2 linked regions of the Homo sapiens genome follow. The protein of the gene in region 2 interacts with the protein of the main gene of each other region in a pairwise test. Each region holds a gene or a part of one and is shown on either strand. Other genes may lie near its edges.

The links.
Region 1: the proteins of XAF1 (region 2) and GLS2 interact in binary tests that used the Homo sapiens proteins (3 or more experiments, as listed by UniProt).

Annotation. Positions count from the first base shown.
Region 1 is NC_000012.12:56,486,583-56,490,494, forward strand, and holds the start of GLS2 (glutaminase liver isoform, mitochondrial isoform 1 precursor), read right to left. Parts: upstream 1,580-3,912; 5' UTR 1,537-1,579; coding exon 1,355-1,536; intron 1,018-1,354; exon of another isoform or gene 987-1,017; coding exon of another isoform or gene 913-986; intron 751-912; exon of another isoform or gene 405-750; intron 371-404; exon of another isoform or gene 258-370; intron 1-257.
Region 2 is NC_000017.11:6,758,863-6,762,774, reverse strand, and holds part of XAF1 (XIAP-associated factor 1), read right to left. Parts: coding exon of another isoform or gene 3,816-3,912; intron 3,520-3,815; coding exon of another isoform or gene 3,301-3,519; exon of another isoform or gene 3,114-3,300; coding exon 3,057-3,113; intron 2,370-3,056; coding exon 2,174-2,369; intron 890-2,173; exon of another isoform or gene 868-889; coding exon of another isoform or gene 734-867; intron 621-733; coding exon 535-620; intron 1-534. UniProt on the Homo sapiens protein: Seems to function as a negative regulator of members of the IAP (inhibitor of apoptosis protein) family. Inhibits anti-caspase activity of BIRC4. Induces cleavage and inactivation of BIRC4 independent of caspase activation.

The sequences.
Region 1 (3,912 bases), on a different chromosome or scaffold from region 2:
GTAATCGCAGCACTTTGGGAGGCTGAGGCAGGCGGATCACCTGAAGTCAGGAGTTCAAGACCAGCAGGGCCAACACGGTGAAACCCTGTCTCTACTAAAACTACAAAAAGTAGCGGGTTGTGGTGGCGCGCACCTGTAATCCCAGCTACTCGAGGTAATCCCAGCTATTCGAGAGGCTGAGGCAGGAGAATTACTTGAACCCAGGAGGTGGAGATTGCAGTGAGTCGAGATGGTGCCACTGCACTCCAGCCTGTGTGACAGAGTGAGACTCCGTCTCAAAAAAGAAAGAAATAAAAGTACTGCATAATGTCATTAATAATAAATAATACCTATTGGTGTCCCTTACGACAGAGACTCGAGTAGTGGTGAGGTAGTGTTGTGTCAGAGACTCGAGTAGTGGTGAGGTAGTGTTGTGTCAGTCTGGCTACTTTACTGATGGTGTCCATGTTTCTGAGTGTCATCAGGGAGATGGCAGCGACGAGGGAGATGGCCCATTTCCTGTTCCTGCTACAGTAGAGCAGGGGCTCTTTGGACAGTGTCTATGCTGGCCCTCTGGGGAGGACAAGATTTCCTGCTCAGCACCGTCTGGGTCTCAGAGAAAAAGGCTCAGCCACCAAGTGTGTCCTAGGCGGTGGGGAAGATAAAGGTTTGGCATCCTGGGTGGAAGAAACACCCAAAGGAAGAGAACGTTTTAGATTCTGGAGCCTGGGCAGCACAAATAAAGGCTCTGACTGGCTCTGGTTTGGGAAATCTGCGTCTTAAAGACCTTTCCTCCATTACAAATATTCTCCCCATTCAACAACCAGTTTGGAAATTCCCCCCCATTCTGCTGTTCAGGGAGCACTGCTACGCACACACCCAACACTTATGGACGTACCTGCGCACCAATAATACACGCGCATCACACATTACCTGCCGAGAACACGCAGAAACACAACACACAGACCCCAGTACACCTGGACCGGAGGCAGGAGGCTGTTCCACATCCACGCATCTCCTAAAATACACACGAGGACTAGGGAAGGTGAGGACTGGCGGCGTGAGCCCGGCCCTGCACTCAGACACGTGAGCCAAGCAACACTCGGCGCGCATCTGTGATCCGGGTTAAGTGCGCACCTTGGACAGGCGCCATCCCCAGGACCCGCTTGCCCGAACGCACTCCTAGGCAGACGGCAGATTACCGCCCGAGCGCGGCGCACCCAAAGCCCCACATCCAAAGGAAAAGGCACCGAGGGCTAGTGAGCGAGGAGAGGGGAGATGAGCGGCGCTGCCTTGGAAGGGCACTCGGGAACTAGCGAGAACCACAGTGGGAGTGGGGGCAAGCCCGTCCCCTGCCCTGTCCCAGGAGCCTTACTGATCCTGGTGCTGCGGCTGGTGGCTGTGTGGCGTCTCTCTGCCCTGCGCCGCGGCCTCACTGAGGTGGTGCCGGACGCCCCCGCCAAGGAGGGGGCTCCGGCTCGGGTGACCCCAGCCTCCTCGCCCGCAGTGACTGCCAGCCCGGCTCAGGGCCTTCTGCAGAGCCTTCATGGAGCGCATGCCCCAGCAAGCCTCCGGCTCTGCAGGTGCGCCCGGGACCTCTAGCTGTGGCTGGGAAGGAGGGGCGGAGCGAGCGAGACAAGGTGCGGGGGAGTTCTGTGAGGGAGCGCTGGACCTGGAAGACGGAGAATGTGGGCCCGGTGGGTGGGGCTGGGGCTGGGGCAGGAGAAGGGGCCTGCCCCTTTAAAGCTGGCTCCAGGGTTAGGGGCACCCTCAGGACAGGGGCTAGGTGAGGAGCGTTGGGGATGAAGGAGAACCCGGGTGGCTTTCTAGTGGGTGGAGAGAGGGCGGTGCCTGGGAGCTGGAATGGACAATGCCCAGGTCCAATCACTGAGGAAGCAAAAACATTGAGGCGGGGAAAGGGTAAGGTTGCCCAATGAGAGCAAGACGGTGGGACCTTGCGACAGTCTGCGGATGCTTCCGCGTGGGCCCGGCGAGCGCGGGTATCCGCGGATGCTGAGGGCGGGAAAGGCGAGGACAAGCTGAGGCGAAGCCGGTGGGGGCGGGAGGCGCTCCCCGGGAACACCGTGGGGCTGCGAATGATGGAGTTGTCGTGTAGAGAGGAGGGTGCTGCCTCGAGAGAGGAGGCTAAGTAAGAGTGAGCCCAGTTCAGGAGGTCACTCAGAGAGCCTCGACCTCCGAAGGCCAAACCAGCGCCCAGTAACCCGGCGGGTAGCGTGGCGCGCGGCCGACGTGCGGTGGTGCTGAGTGGAGAGTAGGATGACTGCTGGGTACCCCGGGCAGAAGCAGCCGACCAGCACCTCAGGGAGGCATTGGGCGGCGGGAAGGTCGCTCTGGCGGTTAGGAAGCCTGGGTTCCAGTTTGTGTCCCTCTACCATTTATTTGGTGTAGGACTTGTTTTCAAATCTGGAAAGTTAAGACATTAAAATAAGTTGGCACGCAGAAAAACGTTTTATAAACCATGAAGTGCTCCCCACATTTTTCCTATTTTAATTGTTTGCCCTTGTCCTCCTCACGGGCAGAAAAGAGGCGATATACAAAAAGCATTTTGAAATCCAAGAACATTCAGGACTTTTGCCATTTGCAGCTAGAACTTTCACCTTGTATCTCGGCAGCGCCTAACCCAGCATCCATATTTAGTAGGGACTCATTATGTAAATGATAGCTATTATTGAGTGCCCATGGTGTTCCAACCGCTTAGTTTCTCTCTCCCTCTTACCAGAGACCTACAAAGTAGTTATTAGTCTCAATTTGAAGGTGAGGAAACTAAGACTAGGAAATTAAGAATTCTCGCATAAGGTAACCCAGCTAGTAAGTACCAGAACCAGAAATTAGACCCGTTTTTTTTTTTTAACTACAAGTCTCTCCTTCATGCAGCCCTTCTCAAAAATTAAGCATTGAATTGAATTATCCCGGGAGAAATGACCCCATCCCTAAAGGAGGTATTTTATGTGGAAGTATTATGATACAGTACTGGGAGTCTTTTCCTTGTGATAGTTCTGGCTGTATCACAAAATACTAGTTTTTGTTTGTTTGTTTTTGAGACGAAGTTTTGCTCTTGTTGCCCTAGCTGGAGTGCAATGGCGCAATCTCGACTCACTGCAACCTCCGCCTCCTGGGTTCATGCGATTCTCCTGCCTCAGCCTCCCTAGTAGCTGGGATTACAGGCGCCTGCTACCTCGCCCAGCTAATTTTTTGTATTTAGTAAAGATGTGGTTTCGCCATATCGGTCAGGCTGGTCTCAAACTCCTGACCTCAGATGATCCGCCCGCCTCAGCCTCCCACAAGTGCTGGGATTACAGGCATGAGCCACCGTGCTTGTCCCATAGTTTTCATTTTTGGATTAAAATGAGTTTCAAGGGTACTCGTGGGAAAACAAGTACTGAAACCAGTCAGGTGTGTTCTGTGGAAAGGCAGTTCTCCTTTGCCTTGGTTAGGGTTGGAGGGCTTATTTGGCTTAAAACCAGATGGAGTGACATTTGTTTTTGCTTGTTTTCGCCTTCTGTAGTCATTCTGTGTCTGCTGTATCTGTTCTCCTGTCCGTGGAAAGCCGTCTAATTCTGGGAGGGCTTGCTGCTTTATGCTTGGCTTTGCCCAAGAGGCAGAGTTCTGGGTCTCAATACTTAACGTAAACTCAATCCTGCATTAGTTTTTTTCATACGTAACAGACGAATCTTATCCTTGTTTCATAGAAATATGATTTATCTGAAACGTTTTGATCTATTCAAGAGAAAAATACCATCTGTTAGGGAATTTCTAAACATTACCCAGAAGTAATTTGCTTCCTTTTTTTCCTATTTCTGCCTCTTTGAATTAGCTTTATACTCTAATGAGTTCCTTACTCTCTTTCTCCCAGCACTCTTCCACTAATAGGAACTGGTTGGGTAGTGAAGAAGATCTATGCATGGAAGCAGA
Region 2 (3,912 bases):
CACAGCAATGCACTAAACGGCGCTTAGGGGCTATGGAGGGAAGAACCTGTGAGTGTTCCCAGGCAAAATCAGTCAGTCAGTCAATCACGTAACTGCGCCTCTACAGAGTCCTCTTTTTGCACCAAGCTCTGATGTCAGGAAAATGGAAAAAGTCATGCAGTTTTGCAGGAAGCTCACAGTCTAATAGAGAAGACTCCCACATGGGACCGAAAACAGTAAGACAGGCCCTACTGAGGACCAAATTGCAATGTCCAGGCCATGAAGTTTGGAGATGGTCAGAGGTGATCGGGGGTGTTGGGAGTGGCAAGGGAAGCCCCTTTGAAGGGCTGGGCACAAATGAAGACCAATTTTTGTGTGCTTGATTAGCCTAAGCAAGTCACTAAACTATCTTTTGGAACAAAGCAAAAAATAAATATGGGACCCTTTAATATCCATGCTATGTAAAATTGGGCCCAGAATCTGCCTTTCCTATCACACTTTTCAGAATGTGGATGAACTATTGGCACCATTAGAAAATTACTAAGTGCTACTCACCATATGGTGGAAATACTTATTTTCTGGAATCATTTGGTTGCAATAATGACAGTAGATTTCCCTTTCAGGAGCTGAAATTCTTTCCCCTGAATAAGCAGAGAAACAACACCACAAATGATTGTCCTTGTCAACGGCTAGCCCAGCTCTCCCACAACTGCATACATGGCCTGTGCTCATGAGCACGAACTGCCCCCCGGACCTGCCTGGTCTTGACTTTCCTGCGCTGCCGGCATCCTTGACCACACAGGCAACTCTTGGCCGAATCACCCACATCATTTCCTTTATGGCCACAGATGTGCACTCAGGGCAGCAGCAACCGTAATGGAGAGACATTTTCCTGGATCAGGACTGGTTTCTAAGGAGATGAATGGAGCTGTAGCCACGGATGCCAACCCCCTCCATTCTGACTGTGCTCTTTCATTGCACCAGTTTTCAGACTCTGTGATCAGACCAGGTGTTGGTTGAACACATTTTTGTTGACAGTGTTGAAGCTGTGTTGTGTTGTGTTGTGTTGTGTTGCACTGAAGTTGTGTTGAAGACTGTGTTTGATTCTGTTGACGTCCAGCCATGCTGGGATGAAGGAAATATACATGACTCTCACAATTTCCAGGTTTCCATTGGCCAGTTTTGCCCTTGGGTGGATTGTTTATCAGGAGAAGGTTACTGTCTGGGGAGTTTTAGGCTCTCTCCCATGTTACCATGTTACCAAAACAACTAGCAAAGACACCAAAGGATCTGTCACACTGATGGTTGTGTGACAGTAAATACACCCTCATAAAGAGGTGAGTGATTCAAGTGAACATAAAATGGTACCAGGGAGCCAATACATAGGCCCCCAGGCCAGGAGCCATTGCTAACTCCCTTCTGGCCATTGTTGATAATGGAAAAAGCCCTAGATTCAGTGCCAGGAAGTGCGGGAGTCCAGTCTTATTTTTGCCTCTAGCAAGTCCCTGCTTTATTCTGTGTGTAGGTTTCTCATCTGTAAAAGGATGCAATGGATCTCTGCCAGGCTAGGACTGTGCTAGAGGTGCTCAAAGAAAGCCTCCTGTTTCCTAGGACTCCCCATGGTCCCCCCCTTTTTTTTTTGAGACAGAGTTTTGCTCTTGTTGCCCAGGCTGGAGTGCAATGGCACGATCTCGACTCACTGCAACCTCCGCCTACCGGGTTCAAGTGATTCTCCTGCCTCAGTCTCCCAAGTAGCTGGGACTACAGGCGTCCGCCACCACGCCCGGCTAATTTTGTATTTTTAGTAGAGACGGGGTTTCTCCATGTTGGTCAAGGTGGTCTCGAACTCCCAACCTCAGGTGATCTGCCCGCCTCAGCCTCCCAAAGTGCTGGGATTACAGGCATTAGCCACCCCGCCCAGCCTTCTCCATGGCCTCTTTACTCAACTTTGTGGTAGCTAGGCTCTAGCCCCGGCCTCCTAGTCTCCCTGGACCAGTCATTTGAAGGCCACAGCAGACACACAGGAAGGCCACTCTGAGGCATGGTTTAGAATTAGAATAGCCAGATGAATTGAGATCTATACAGCAAATACACTTGTCATCCGTCCTGTTGAGAGCTTCCCTTCCTTGCATCCCATCCAGGAAAGGCTCTGGCCCTTGGAACGTCTCTCTTCCACCCCAGTTTGTGTGCTTACCTTTCCCGAGCTGGGCCTGTTCACTGCGACAGACATCTCTGTGCTGGGCGAGCATGCGGTGCATGATGAACTGGCCACAGCCTTGGCAGAGCTCTGTCCGGCTGCCACAGTAGGACTCGTGGAGCTCCAGCTTGCTGAGCTGCATGTCCAGTTTGCAGAACTTACACTCAACAGGGCGCTCCTGGCACTCATTGGCCTGTGGGAGGCAGCAGGAAGGGCATGATCACTGGCCCTTTTTTTTTTTTTTTTTTTTTGAGACAGAGTCTCATTGTGTTGCCCAGGCTGGAGTGCAGTGGCTTGATCTTGGCTCACTGCAACCTCCGCCTCCCGGGTTCAAGCAATTCTCCTGCCTCAGCCTCCCAAGTGGCTGGGACCACAGGCGTGTGCCACCACGCCCAGCTAATTTTTGTACTTTTAGTAGAGACGGGGTTTCACCATGTTGGTCAGGCTGGTCTCGAACTCCTGACCTCGTGATCCACCCGCCTTGGCCTCCCAAAGTGCTGGGATTACAGGCGTGTGCCACTGCGCCTGGCCGATCACTGGCCTCTTTGACTGTAGGCAGATCAAGGACTTGTGCCCATCTCCCTAGGGAATTAGGGCCAATACGAGAAAGCAGATGAGAAGGGCCAGAGTGCGGGACTGCCTTCGGGGGATCTGAGCTCTGATGGACTCATGGACCATGGAAAACCCTTCTGATCAGTATCTGGGGGACAGGAGAACCTGTGTTATGCGGTGGGCTAGTTCTCCACTGCTCTCCAAGCCTAATGGGGTGAAAAGAGTGGTCAGGTGGAAATCTCTATTACTGGCCTCCCGTTTCCCCTTCCTCTCCTTTTCTCAGGTTGGTCTATTTGGCTGTAAAGGAGAAATCACATGGGGCTCTTACCTTATGAAACTCCAGCGAGGACTTCTGCATGCTCTGCTGACACATCGTACACCCAACCTAAACACACACACACACACACACACACACACCAGATGTGGGTCCACCCAGCACCCAGGGCCTGCCCCACATCCACTTTGGCTCACAGTGTTCCGGGTTTGGGTCTGTGAACTCCCAGAGGGCAGGGATCCGATGTGGCTACCTCAGTGTCTCTCTAGCACCCCGCCCAGTGTTCAAGAAGTGTTTGTCAGACCAGTCTGAGTTGGCAACGGCTGCCTGAGCTTGAGTATCTCCAGAGAGACAGATCAGGGGCCCCAGGAGGAATGGACATGGAAAGGCGGGAAACAGGGCTCCATCTGACTGCCTTCCAGGACCTTCCTTTTTCACATCCTCTCTTTACAGATCTCAAGAGAACAGCCAGTCTTTCCTGAAACCAGAACCTCTTGCCTATGCCAGATCCATAAGCCTGTAGGGAAAGGATTGGAAATAGGAAAACTGGAGGTAGACTCAGATTAGCATGAAAAAGGCAGGATTAACATTTCCTTTCCATGGGCTTTGTGTGGAGGGGCTAAATGACTTCCCATGGCCCTCAAGTGAGTCTCTGCCTGGGGGACTGGACCCTTGCCTTAAGTCCCCAGCCCTCACCCCAACTCCCGGACCCCATCTCTCCTGCAGGGAGGACTGGAGCCATTCCCTGACTCCCAGACCCCTTCTTTCTTGCAGGGAGGATGGAACACTTGCCCCTCCCAGACCCCATCTCACCTGCAGGGAGGACTGGACCCTCGTCCCCCAACTCTCAGACCCCATCTCTCCTGCAGGGAGGACTGGACCCACTCTGTGACTCCCAGATCCCATCTCT